2 linked regions of the Homo sapiens genome follow. The protein of the gene in region 1 interacts with the protein of each later gene in a biochemical or structural test. Each region holds a gene or a part of one and is shown in the gene's direction. Other genes may lie near its edges.

Evidence for each region.
Region 2: the proteins of FGFR2 (region 1) and LRRK1 form a complex in vitro, tested with the Homo sapiens proteins (2 studies listed by BioGRID and IntAct, with this or other methods).

The regions. Positions count from the first base shown.
Region 1 is NC_000010.11:121,588,442-121,595,468, reverse strand, and holds part of FGFR2 (fibroblast growth factor receptor 2 isoform 1 precursor), read left to right. Parts: intron 1-1,210; exon of another isoform or gene 1,211-1,501; 5' UTR 1,502-1,594; coding exon of another isoform or gene 1,595-1,651; coding exon 1,652-1,760; intron 1,761-7,027. UniProt on the Homo sapiens protein: Tyrosine-protein kinase that acts as a cell-surface receptor for fibroblast growth factors and plays an essential role in the regulation of cell proliferation, differentiation, migration and apoptosis, and in the regulation of embryonic development.
Region 2 is NC_000015.10:100,922,330-100,929,356, forward strand, and holds part of LRRK1 (leucine-rich repeat serine/threonine-protein kinase 1), read left to right. Parts: intron 1-2,181; 5' UTR 2,182-2,303; coding exon 2,304-2,400; intron 2,401-7,027.

The DNA.
Region 1 (7,027 bases):
ACACCATGCACGCACACACACCGTGTACACACACACACACTGCACACATACTTTTCTTGCTTTTGCTGTGAATCACACCGTTTCACCTGTGCTATCTTTGAAGCAGAGGTTTTCTTTATTCCTCCTTTGGAAATGATGTGGCATATTCTTTTCCCTCCTCCATTTTTGTCCTCAGTCAAAGCTAAAAGGAGCAGTTTTTATGATGAGATTTGGGGAGGCTCCAGCAGTGTTGAAATCCTATGACATAACTTGAAACATCGAGTGGGTACATAAAAAATGTAGAGTTTAGAGATTTTTGTATTAAAGGCCTCCCTGCCACCCCCAGTCTTAGAAAATGTGGTTCATTCCTGTGGTTCACAGAATCTGAAGCCTGAGATTGATGAGCCCCTTCTTGTGATTGTTTTAATCATTCTCTAAAGTTTGTGCATTTTACTGTACCCTTAGTCACAGAGAGTACTGAGTGAATTTAAAGTTGCTTGGAATATATTAAGCTTTCTTGGAAAATTCTCTTTCCCTTGGATCAAATGGGTGAACAGAATATTAAGTTGAGTGTCCTCTTCTAACTTATACTCTGAAAATTTAGCCAGTAGGTTTGCATATGGAAAGTTATTGGTCCAATCACATACCATGACTATAATTTACATAATTTACATCATCATTATTAATAAATTCCTGCATTATTCATCAGAATTTGCATCTGCTCAGTTTCCTCACCCTTCTACAGAGGTTGAAGACATTTAGCAGCCCTGGACTGCCATTTAGTCACAGGGGAAGGGAATTCAGGCTTCGAAGTCCTTTTTGGATCAGCTGCGTTGAATGCGCTGCAGTTGTGTTCACTCTTCGTAAGTGGCTGCTTGGCGGAAGACTGAAAGACACTTCTCCATTTGAAAATGAATCCTGACAAGTGTAAACTGGTGGGAATTTTCTGTAGCCTTCCTGGGATTCTTTTGATTTTGCTGGTCTCCTTTCTTCCCAAGAGCGACAGTGAGGGTGGGAGACTGCTCACCTCCAGCCCAGCAGAAATACGGAGCTGTGAGCAGACTCCTCCAACAGTTTAGCTTTCTAAAGCCCAGTTGGACTAAGAGAAGGGAACGAGGTTGGTTATGCCAACCCGAGCATTTTTAACTTGCTTTTGTAGTTGCCCTTGAAACTAAGGTCACGTTGCTTCTGCTCATTGAGGGCGGTGGAGGCGATAGTGGATAGTAGAAGAGAGCACACATTGCCTCACTGAAGTGGCTGCACGTATCTGAGTCCTGTAGCTACTGTTTTATCTCTGTTTCTTAAAAGTATGCTTTTAAAAAGATTAGCCTCACACATTTCTGTGGACCGGTCTGGTGGTATCACCTGGGACTCTGAGGTGAGGATGGAAGGATTTAGCAGATAATGAAAAAGAACTCTGTTTGCGCACATTTGAGAGGCTGAAAAATGGTTTTATCCCACTTGGGCTGGAGTGATTTGGCATTGGGGAAGATTCCCTGACTCGCCAATCTCTTTCCTTTAGTGACTGCAGCAGCAGCGGCAGCGCCTCGGTTCCTGAGCCCACCGCAGGCTGAAGGCATTGCGCGTAGTCCATGCCCGTAGAGGAAGTGTGCAGATGGGATTAACGTCCACATGGAGATATGGAAGAGGACCGGGGATTGGTACCGTAACCATGGTCAGCTGGGGTCGTTTCATCTGCCTGGTCGTGGTCACCATGGCAACCTTGTCCCTGGCCCGGCCCTCCTTCAGTTTAGTTGAGGATACCACATTAGAGCCAGAAGGTAAGTCATTTAATTTCACTTTTCAGGTTTGTTTTGGGATTTGTCTGGGGGCAGATTGTTAAGGCCTGTTTTAGAATCAGCTACCCTTGCATTGTAAATGGGGCTTCTAAGAGCACCAGATCGTGGTCTCTTGGCTCCCGGCAAGGCAGAGCTGATGAGAGAAGGTCCTTTGCCGCAGCACTGCAGGCAGGATGGTATAGTTTGGTGGTTTCTTGCTGTGTGTGTTTCTCTGTGCTGGGTGAGGGAGACAGCTGGGAGTTGGCCTTTATCCAGTGCCCGAGAGAGCTGTGGAAGGGATGAACCTTGGGAGGATGAATGTCATCTCTAGTCTCCCCCAGCATCATTCCTACTGCTTACAATGTAAAGAATTGCTATTTTCGGACAAGATGAACCACTAAAAGAAATTGCCAACATCTGAAATGCTGACATCTTATTTTCATTGTTTAAGGAGAAAAGAAGTTTCTGAAGTTTAGCACAGAGAGAGAGGCTTGACATCTCAGAATTTTTTTTTAGCCATTGTAATTCATAATACTTAAGCAATGCATCATCACAGAGTGGCAGATTCTAGTTTAGGTAAACTTGAAAGTGAATGTGCCAGGGGATCTCCTCCAGCTCCGAGAACCTCCAAGTATCACAGGGCATGCGCCGGTGTCACAGCTTTGGAAATTTAATTTTCAAGGTGTAAGTCCAATTACGAGGACTACATGAGGCTGAATTATTCAGCTTAGCAGATTTGGAACCTCTCTCCCAGCCCTTTGGAGACAACGTGAGCCAAGCCTCTACTTGGTGCTGCACTGAAATCTGTCATCAGTAGGGAATATTGGTAGCTGAGTTATTTTTCGAGTGGTAATCCGAGAATAAAACGGCAGATCCCAGCACTCATCGCCACTTAATGAACCTGTTTGTGGAGAGTCCACCTGGTGCCTGCCTGGCTTTAGGAACCCGCAGCAGTCCGAGTGGTGTCTGGGGTAAGCTGAGCTGCTCTGGGAACACATCTCGTGCGTGGGGTGAATGAACAGCACACTTACCCAGTGGGGTAGGCTGGGAGAGGACAGAGAGCCCAGCCTCCTTAGCTGGATCAGGACAGTTTAGGAAGGAGGGTTGCGTCCATCTGAGATGAGAGTTCTGAGAGACATGGGCTCCCCAGGAAGACCCCAGGCACTTGTCATTGAAGGATGAGGACCGAAGCACTTATCACCTGAAGCAATCGTGTGAGACTGGGGAACTTTTCGTTACACAGAGGGATGGCAGCTCTATAATTAACAGGTGTGGTGACATCTCCCTGCGTCTCTGGGAAGGGAATCTGGTAGGAGTTTGTGTCTGAGGCTTGTATAGCTACAGCTACAGGCCGATTATGGAACTGCCTCTTGGTGATTTGTGCTGGGACACCAGGATGAGTGTAATTTGCAGTGGTGATGCATTTTTACAGGGCTTTCATGTAAGAGGGAAAAAGTTCCTGGTTTCTGAAAGTCATGCCTGTACGTCTTTAATTTTGCTAATAATTAAAATGGATGTTTCCGTGATTGCTGGTTTTCCCTTGAGTGCGTGGCTCGGCAAAAACTGAGGAAGCTGAGCTGGGATTTCCTACGGTGTGGGCTTTAGGAGCAACCCAGGTTAGGGAAAAACTGTCATTTTTCATTTTGGCTTTTCAGGGCAGCGTTATTGTGAGTTTATTTCAACATAAAGTGTAAAATGGTCCCAGAGGATTTGTTTTACTGTATTTAATTCTTGAAGGAAGTTTAAAATTGTGTATACATGCAGGGAGGGACAGGTGAGGCAGAGGGAAGAAATCGTGGAAAGGGACGAAGTTCCCCGAGTGAGTCTTTGTGTAAGAATTTACATCCAACAATGTGGGTATTGTTGGAAGCAGGCCTGCTCAACCTGGGATCTGTGGATGCACTTATGGATCAGGAAGGAGGTCGATGAAGTTCTGGAAATTTTAGGTAATATTTTGTTAATGTCCTTTTGTGCATTTTTATGGGTTTATAGTTTCCATGAGCTATGAGTTCATTTGCATCCAGAATTATGAGATGGAAAAGAAAAGATGTCTTAGAGGAAGGTGCAAAACCTGGCAAAGAAGAGGCTTTGGAAAAGTATACAAGTCCCAGGCCTCAGTTTCCCTTTCTGTCGTCTGAGGGCTTAAGAAGATGATCTTTAGGGTCTCTTCATTAATAGTCATTGAATATTAATGTCCTCAGAAGTCTTCTGACTCTTCCACCAAAAGGTTGTTAGGAGATTTCCATTTGACCTGGACATAAAGAGCAATTAGCACAGGGGCTGGCATCCAGTAAGCACCGGGTGCATGGCCTTGTCGCCGTTGTCGCCAGGGAGCTGGGAACATGGGTCTTCCCAGTCCCGTGGGCTGGCTGTGCCAGGTGCCACAATGTCAAAAAACATCTAGGCTTTTGGAGACAGTTGAGAAGAAAGTTGTTTTTGGATGGAGGAGGCCCTTGGTGTTTCCAGGAAGCTGTGTTTGCTTTCTGTAGGGTCCCCACTTCCCCTCATCTGTTAGTCTAATACTGGCCACTGATTTGAGCCCTAAGACCAGTTCTTCTGTTGCAGGAGTTCGCTTTGGTGTCAGAGGTGATTAGGAAGGTCATTGAATTATAGATGAGAAAGGAGTTTTTAACAGCTGAAAATGGGCTCAGGTTTAGGCTCTGTGCTGGTGAATTGGAAGAGAGAGAGAGAGAGAGAGAGTGTGCGTGTGTGTGTGTGTGTGCGCGAGTGCGCGTGCGTGCGTGCGTGCCTGTGCCCCTGTCCATCAGTTCTCCATGATTAGAACTACTATAGCTTTGGTTAGCAGTAAGTTCCACCTTGACCTTCTGTGCACCAAGGTCTTATCTTGTAAGACTTTTTGGTTTGCTAATTTATTTGGAAGCTCAGTTTAGATAATGTCTATTGGATAGGAGAAAAATGTGACTGAGAAGTTCCAGGAAGAAGCCTGGGCCCTAACACTAGAGGGTCCTTTTCTTTTGGCCCCTCAGGGAAAGGTTATGTTTAGTCATCTTGGCTTTGTGCAATATCGTATCATATCATATGTCATATCATATATCATATATATCATTTGTCTTCTGGACACGTTCTGAAATAGTAGCAGTGGGGTTGGGCCCACTCAATTGACTTAAGAAAATAATCTCTAGAAGATTTTAGTTTTTAATATTTCAGATTAAATATGAGTTTTCCAGTTGGTCATTCATTGTTAATTTCCTTTTGGTCATTCATTGTTATAGGGCACCAGCAGAGGAGTGAAAACATGGTTATTGACTCGAAGGGGGGCAGTCCTCAATGCCAAGTACTATTCTGTTGATTAACATTATAAATATTTGAAGTCTAGTCAAGCTTGATTACCCTGAGAGGGGGCAACTCTTACTTTCAAGTTCTTCCTGACATTGTCACCTACTCTGGTTAATTAAGTCATTGTTGACATTAATGGCATCTTTGTTTACACCAACCCAGTAGGAGCTAAAATGAAAGGGCTTTTCAACCCTACACCCTTAATTACTTTCCCACCCTCCACAGAGTGTGACTCTGAAAAGTAACAACCTGAAAAAAAATGTAGTTTGTGTAGCAATTTTTTGTCAATCTTCTGAGAGGTGATGCTCTCCTGGACCAACGTGAGTTGGTCCAGAGTTCAGTAGCAGAAACGTCGAGGACAGGATCTACACAGAGACCTCCCTAAGTCAGATTTTTCCAGTATGGTTTAAGTCCTTTGTTAGAAGTATTGTAAATGCCATAATATTAACCATACGCATTTAATTGCAAGTTAAAAGAAAGGAAGAAAGAATATATCCGCATACCAAGAGTGAATGATTTAAAATAATCTTCTGTTTCGTATTATCTGCATCTTTGTTTTTCAATATGAGTGTTAATATTTAAGAGTTGACTGTAACTTGATAGTTAGCTTTGGAACAAGGACTTATTCTTGGTCAATTAAACCAAATACAGGCTTACGCAGTTAAATACACAATGAAGTACACATTCTTTATTAGTATATAAAGTGTTTCACAATTCATAGACCAAGAGCCATGTTTAATATTACTTATAGAGCAGAAATCTGGCAAGCCCAGAGAACTGGTACTTGTATCATTTTATACTGGCTCTCTCTGATTCAAATTTGGGGTATATGTGTGTGTTTCTGTTTTGTCTGTTTATTTCAACCAGTTAAAAGACAGAGCACTTACTATGCCAATGGCCCCGCATCAAGCCATAAGTAAAGACTTTATTCCTTTCAAGTCTTTCTGACCCAGTTGAGGGTGAGAATTCACAAAACCACAGCAATCCAATATGAGATGTTTTTAATATCAGACTTAACAAATAATTACATGGCTATGAAATAACTGGGGTCGTGTTTAAACTGGAAGTGTTTTGTTTAATGTTCGTAGTTTCAATAAAATGTATCCACTAGTCTTCCAGTTTGCAGACTGTTGTTTAGGTGTTTGTTTAGCCAGGGTAATTGTTAAAAACTCCCTCTAATCTAGCTTACCCTTACATTTCCATGGAAGCGAATTTTAGTCATTAAAGGAAAACATGGGAAATTGATTTTTGGGTGCCTGGCTGTTAAGCTAGGTAGGAAATATAGCTGGTGTGCTACTCTCCACTGTACTGGTCCGATTCTCGCCAGGGGGACATCTCTGTAGGCAGTTCAGAAATTATTTTTTGGAAGTTTTTTAGGCTATTCCACAGATAATTCTGATCCAGTAGGTTTTATGCAACTGTGCAAAATGCTTATGGTCTCTATTTTTTTTTCCTTGAGAGATGATTTTAGCCTTTGGTTTTTTGTTTGTTTTTGTTTTTTGAGACAGAGTCTTGATCTGCCACCCAGGCTGGAGTACAATGGTGCAATTGTACCCTCACTGCATTGTCAAACGTGGCTCACTGTACCCTCGGACTCCTGGGCTGAAGGGGTCCTCCAACCTCCTGAGTAGCTGGGACTACAGGCCTGGATAATTTTTAAAAATATTTCGTAGATATGGGGTTTCGCCATGTTGCTCAGGCTGGTCTCCAACTCCTGGCAGCCTTGGCCTCCCAAAGTGCTGGGATTACAAGTGTGAGCCACCACACCTGTCCTAGCCTTAAGTTTTGCATTTTTTTCCATCTTTTTGCTGTATCCCATATGATTTAGAGATTTTTGCTGTATCCCATGAGATTTAGAGATGGCTCTACTTTTTTTAGCTTTCCTAGCATTGAAATGCTTGGTGTTGCTAATCATACCCCATCTTTACCACACCATCTTCCTCCCTGACTTGCCTTCTTAGTGTAGTTTGGTC
Region 2 (7,027 bases), on another chromosome or scaffold:
CTGCTCCAGGGGCAGAGTCTTCCACTGGTAAAGTGATTTTCAAAAGGAAACTGAAAATGAAAAGGGGAACAAAATGTGCTGGGTGAGGGTTAGCCTGAAATAATTTTAAGATTTTTTTTTTTTTAGAACTTAAAAACATTGTATGGTAAGACACTTCTGTTTTCAGGAAGAATGTCTAGCGTTTGGATTTTTGAAATGCTGTTGGTTATGTGCGGTAGCTGTTTTGGAGAGGTGTCTGAAAGCAGATGGCAACTGTGCTTCTCAGTTTCTGGATGTGAATGTGTGATCGGAACGTTTATTTTAAAACAGATTCTGTCTTGCTGGCTCTTCCTCTCTCTGTCACAAGTTGATTTTCCAAATCAGGTTTTGCTATTTATAAGGCTTTCATCATCCCCTAAATTTTGCCCAGATTGATCGTTTTTCCTTTCCTCCTTCGACTTTTCAGGCTTCCCAACTTCAAACACAGGTGTTTCCCACACGTGGTTTGTGTCGACCATCCCTTTTGCCTCTGAAACATGTGCAGCTTGCACAAGGCTGCTGGAGCCTGGCTTTTCTAGCTCCACCTTTCCCTGCCTTGACGAGTCCAGTCCACCTGGGCCAGGTGCCTGAGTTCTAGGCTTTTAGGTGAGAAATTCCCACAGCCTTGTCCTGTACCTTACTTCGTGCCCCTACTGCTCACGGCATCTTCTAGAACCTACCCGCTGGTGAGGCTGGCATCTGCCCTCCAGCATTGATATTCTGATCTTATTAATTAGCAGGGAAGTGGGAGACCCGCTGGCCTCCAAGTCTGTGCGCTGGTACTACAGGTAATGACCACCCCAGCCCTGTCGTAGAGAGAGGCTGCAGAAACTTCACTTTGGTTGAATTCACACAGTAACCCCACTAGCAGGCCCGGGCATAAGGGTGGATGTCTATTTTTAACAGGTGAAAACTGAGACACACATACCTTTCAGCTGGGAGTCACACTGCGAACATGTGACACAGGCAGTCCACACCTTTAACGTCCACGCTATGCTTTTGCCTGTACAGATTCTCTTAGGCATTATTTTTATATAACCTTGATTTAAAAAATATATTTTTGGCTGCACTATCACTCCCCATTTCAGAGTTGTCTATCTGAGAGAACACAGACAAGAGGTGCTAATTACCTCGTACTTCATCACATGTAGGATATGCTATAAGAACAAGGATAGGCGCACATGCATTACTTATGGTAGTACCTCATGTCAGGCCTGAGCTAGGCATGGGTCTTACCCTCCCTCTGGTCCTTCAATCACCATACCAGGATGGGCACTTATGCCCATGGGGGGACTCTAAGCTCAGTGGGGGCCCAGCATAGAAGAGCAGCACTTGGTCTCAGTTTATCATAGTCATTAGTTTCAGAGATTAGTCTAACTCCACCCTGGAACTTTTGGGGCCAGATAATTCTTTGTTGCAAATAGCAGTCCTGTACATTGTAGGATGTTTAGCAGCATCATTGACCTCTACCCATTAGAGGCCTGTAGCACTCTCCCCCAGCCAAGTTGTGGCAACCAAAAATGTCTCCAGACATTGCCAAATGTCCCCTGGGAAAGGGGCAGAATTTTTGAGGCTCATGTCTGCTAACCTCCGTCATTTAGCTTTCTGCTAAAGCTCATGCTAACTTGACTTCATAACCAGTAATAATTCCATGTCTTTGGAACTGTTGCCTGACCACCCCCTTGGGATGACGTGCTCACCTCTGGCTTCCAGAAGAACTGGCCCCGGGCAAAAGGAGAGCCTTGTATCGTGACTAACCTTAACTATGTCTGCCCTACCCCCACTGGAGTGTGCCCCTGAGGGCAAGAGCCTCCTTGAGCCATCTTGGTGCCACTGAGCCTCACACAGAGCCTGGCTACCTTGCATGTGACAGTAGGTGTGCGTTGACTGAACAATGATTGAAGCTGTTACCAGTATGTGTTTTCCAATTGTCTGGGGTTTGTTTGAGACTCTTCTCAGGTAGACAATACCTGAGCCCCGCATCAAGATGGGATGGGGGGAGCTGTGCCTTCCCACTGACCACACCTGATGGGTTTGGCTGGATAGATGGACTACAAAAAGGAATGTTGCAGAGGGAAAACTAAATGAACCCATGCAAATATTTGCAGGGGAGGAGGACAGGAATTATAAAGGCTTTCTGTTTTGATTGTTTTTCGCCACCAGAGCAAGAAAGCTTTCTGCTCAGCCATGGCTACGAGTCCACGCCTTAATGCACCCCACAGCCAGCGGCAGTGGCAGTGACAACAGCGGGACCTGCCTTTGAAGATCGGCTGCTGCAAGGGTTGATGGCTGGCATGTCGCAAAGACCCCCCAGCATGTACTGGTGTGTGGGGCCGGAGGAGTCAGCTGTGTGTCCAGAACGTGCCATGGAGACGCTTAACGGTAAGGACAGGGCTGTGCTTATGCCTGCCTGGGTGTGACCTGCCATGCTCATCCTGCAGGGTGTCTAGGCTATGTAAGAACAAGGAGTTCTCAACCAGTGGAAATCAAATGTCCATCATTTGGTGCTCTTTCATCATATAATATATCTTGGGACTCTTAAATTCTAAAAATTGAGGAACAGTGTACAAAATTTATTGTGGACTCACAGATCTTAACAATTGGGACATCACTTCATGCTGGGTTAAAGAACTTTTAAGAAAAAGGATGTAGTTTTGTTTTTTCATTATAAAAATAATACATGTTTATTAAGGAAAAATTGAAAAAAATAATTTAAAAAAAAGGAAGAAGGGAAAGGAATCATCCAGAATCCCGCTATCTCAAACACAAGTACAATGAGCATCTTGGCATGTTCTCTCCTAGTCTCTGCTTCTCTGTGTTTAGGGGACTTTGTTTTAACCTTATTGTACTTACAAGGTGTATGTAATGTTGCATGTTGCTTTTTTCTCTTCACCGTCCATCAGTGACATTTGCTTAGGGCACCACCTGGCTCCCGCAATCAAGTGAAACATCATTTCATTTATTTTATTTTATTTTTTTACGATTTAATAATTGGATCAAAAAATGATTCATAAATTGGGCAGTACTCCGAACCAAAACAAACATCATTATCTGCGGGAGTGCTATGTGCAGTTATTGACCTAATCCTTATTCTCCTGTGGGACATTTGGGTTGCTTCTAGTTGTTTACTCCTACTGAGAGCATTTCCTTCCCATCTCTTCATACCTGGTTTCAAGGTTATTTCTGTAATGCAGGTTTACAGAAGTTGAATGATTGGTCTTGAACATCGTTAAGCTCTTGGCACGTATTTTGCCAGATTTTCCGCTACACTTGCACCACCTTTAAGACCAATAGGATATCATCGTTTACAAATATTTGTCAATCCCTTAGTATGTACCAGGCACTACATGTACAAAGTTCAGAACTTTACGAAATAATGTCATAAAATCCTCACGACAACCTGGCACATGGTACTTTTATTTCCGTTTTATAGCTGAGGAACATGAGGGTAAGAGAAGCCTGGAAACGTGTTCAAGGTCAACAACTCAGAAATCACAGAATTGCCATCTGAACCCTGTCTTAATGCTGCAACACTCATTCTTAAATGCTAGGCCACACTATGGGAGGTGAAAGGGTCAACAGGTTGGGTCTGAGAGGCCCACGTTTGTACCCTTAACCGTGTTAACTAACGATCGGCCACTGTACCTGGCTTGGCAGACACTTTGTTCAGTTGTTTGAGTGTTTTCACTCCATCTGAAATGTCCAGCAGCTGACCAGGGTGATGTTTCTGGAAGGTGTCGTTTCACATCCATCACATTATGAAATGGGAAACGAATTTGCTTCTTGACATTGCCCAGCACTAAATCTTTCCAGAGTGTTCAACTTGCATCTTTGTAAATTTTCTTTTTCTTTGTATTAGACGTGTGTCTTTTTTCAGTTGTGTGGTAGGAAGACCTTGCTCTGTTGGTGTGAGATCGAGGTGGCGTGGGTGATAGAACGCAGTCCCCGATTTGGGGGTAGCACCTCCACCTTTCCAGTGCACGTGAGGCTCCCTTATCCTCCTGCTGCTCCTCTTCGCAGCCCTGAGGGACGAGGGTGGGGACAGGGACCTTGGGTCTGTTTGGGGCCTGTAGGGTAGGTGACTGTGTCATCTGAAAAAGCCCACAGGAGGCGCTGCTCCCTCCCCTCCTGGTCAACAGTTGGTGATCTAAAGGAGTGCTTCTCAACCACGGCCCACACAGTCACTGGGTAGTGGCTCAAACCGGCAGGGCCCTGGCACCACCTGGACCCACTGGAGCAGCATCTTGGGGCAGGGGGGCGGGGAGTGAACAAGCATGGGTAATTTTTTCTTTTTCATTTTCTTTCTTTCTTTTCTTTTTCTTTTCTTTTTTTCTTTTTTTTTTTTTTTTTTTTTTGAGACAGTGTCTTGCTCTGTCACCCAGGCTGGAGTGCAGTAGCATGACCTCAGCTCACTGCAACTTCCACCTCCCAGGTTCAAGTGATTCTCCTGCCTCAGCCTCCTGAGTAGCTGGTACTACAGGCGTGCGCCACCACGCCCAGCTAATTTTTGTATTTTTAGTAGAGACGAAGTTTCACCATGTTGGCCAGGCTGGTCTAGAATTCCTGACCTCAAGTGATCCACCCACCTCAGCCTCCCAAAGGGGTGGGATTACAGGTGTGAGCCACGGCGCCCGGCCAGCATGGCTAATTTTTCAAAGTTCCCTAGTGATTCTAACGTGTAGCTAAAGTTGAGAATCAGGCCATCTAAATGGTTTGAGTCCCATAGAGCAGCACTTCTCAAATTATCAGGTGCACATGTCCCCTGGGGATCCTGATGAAATGCAGAATCTCATTCAGGAGGCCTGGGGCACAGACAGCCTGCGTTTCTAGGTCCCCAGGGATCCCCCGTTGATTCTTACAGGTCCCAGGGACCGGGGCGCAATGGGCTTTGGACAAACCCATCCCCACCTCCAAGCTCGTGGCAGGACAGATAACCAGAAAATGTTAAGGTGTTCCGAAAGGCCAAAGTGTGGCACTCCCCAGCCCCCATGATTCTCCCTAAAGGCCTGCATCTGAGCTTGGCACTGCTCCTTAGGAGGTGTCCTCTCCTGACTCTGCTCTGATGGCCTCTTTCCCCAGTGGGATCTCAGGAATCCCTGCTATCCCTGTTCTGTATAACCCAAGGGACACACACAAGGGCCAAGGACCCTGACGTGACCTCAGCAGCCTTCACTGTGTACTGTTCAAGGAGCTTGAAGTAGGGACAGGACAGGGAAGTGACACCCTGGGAACCCCTGAGAATGAGGGAGGTGTTTGTGCAGTGACCTAATACAGAGAACACAGAGTTGAAGAGGAGAGGAAGATAGCCTGAAACACCCCAGAAAGTTCTGTCCCCTGTTTAGCATTAAGAAAATTATGTTACATGTTAATGAATTACAATAATAACCAAATCCTCATAAGGAATCTGGTGAGAAGCTACTAATTTATACCCATACTCAGAGTTTTAAGGTCCCACAGGTGGTACCAGCAGAACTGAGCCTGTGAGCCCCAGCCCTGGAGCTCACTAACAGAAGTTATTAATTCCAGGGACTAAAGCCTACAGTGCTCCCTCTGTAAAGCCCAATTTTAACGCATTGCATGTTGGATTTCATTTTCGCAGAATATATTAATAAATGTGTACACTAAGACTACAGCCAAGGAGCAGGTAATGCTCAAAGGGTGGCGTGTGGCCACGTCTGTGTGCTGGGATTGCAGTCACTGTGCTTTGCTCATCGGTGCTGTTTATGTTTCCTGCAATATCTACACATTGCTTTTTGTTTTGTTTTGCCTTCTTTTGCATCCAGACGAATAATATTGCAAGTTATTTTTAAATTATTGTTTATTTAAGTACTGATGATTTGTGTTTAGAATCTAAACGGTAAACCTCCTGTGCTTACATCCAAAGTTAGATCTGCCTCCACTGGCCTCTTTGCCTTGAAGTCTTTCTGGAATAAATGCGGAATACTTGACTTACTATGACTGCAGCTGATCCCCCCGCAGGACTCACCCTCTGCACATGTCCCCAGAGCCTAAGCTGGATTTGTCCCATCCCACCTTCTCCTAGACTTCCTGGGATGATAGGGAGCCCTGTTTCCCCTCTCCCACCCCCCAAATCCACCAGCCTCACTCAGGGAACACTGTTCAGGCCTAATTTCCAGCTCCGGCTGAGAAAAGTTGGCCGCCAGAAGGAAAACTAACGACACTCAAAATTATGTAGGGACAGCTTTCTCATGCTTTAAAAATCCTTGGAAGATAACGTGATTGAAAACGACGACGTTCTTATTATACTTCCACGTGTGCGTTAGAAAAAGACCCACACTTTAAAAAAGAGTGTCTACTCTTGGGTGTTGGGGTAATGGTATTTTTAATTTTTTATTTGTGTACTAGGCACGCCTTTTCACACCCCCTACCTGTTGTGACTTGCGTGACCTCAGCTCATGTTTGTTTACAATGGTTAATCCTTTCAAAGCCCCTGGATGTGGGGGGCTTTGCCCAGCTGGTGTGAGGCTGGGGTCTGTGTGTGTCTGCCCTGCCGTGCGGCCCGCTGTGTGTTTGTGCAACACAATTGTGTCCCAGGAAGGTGTGTGACAATCTCAACCTCATTAGCACCAGCAGCAGTCAGCTCGCCTGCGGTGCAAGAGGAATGGTTGGAAAGCTTTGATGGGCGTAGAGTTTGCCAGCTGACAGAGCAGCTGTCAATGAGATGCTGGGCATGGGCTGCAGGACGCGCATTACTTTGACAAACATGTCATTAGATGTTCATTCTTCTGAGTATGTCTGACACCAGCCAGAGTGGAAAAACCAGTCCCGCCAGCCAAGGAGAGCTGTCCTGGAAAGTAGAGAAGTCAGGAAACTTCCACATAATTCAGGTGGAGAATACTTGGGAAGACTTCTGGATTGCGGAGGGTGGGTGGAACTTGAGCAGACATCACCCAGGCAGTGGCTCGCCCCCCCAGCTCTCTGTGAGTGGCCGTCGCTTCGGTCCTGAAAGCCCTGCCACAGTCACACACCTCTCAGAGCACTGCCCACC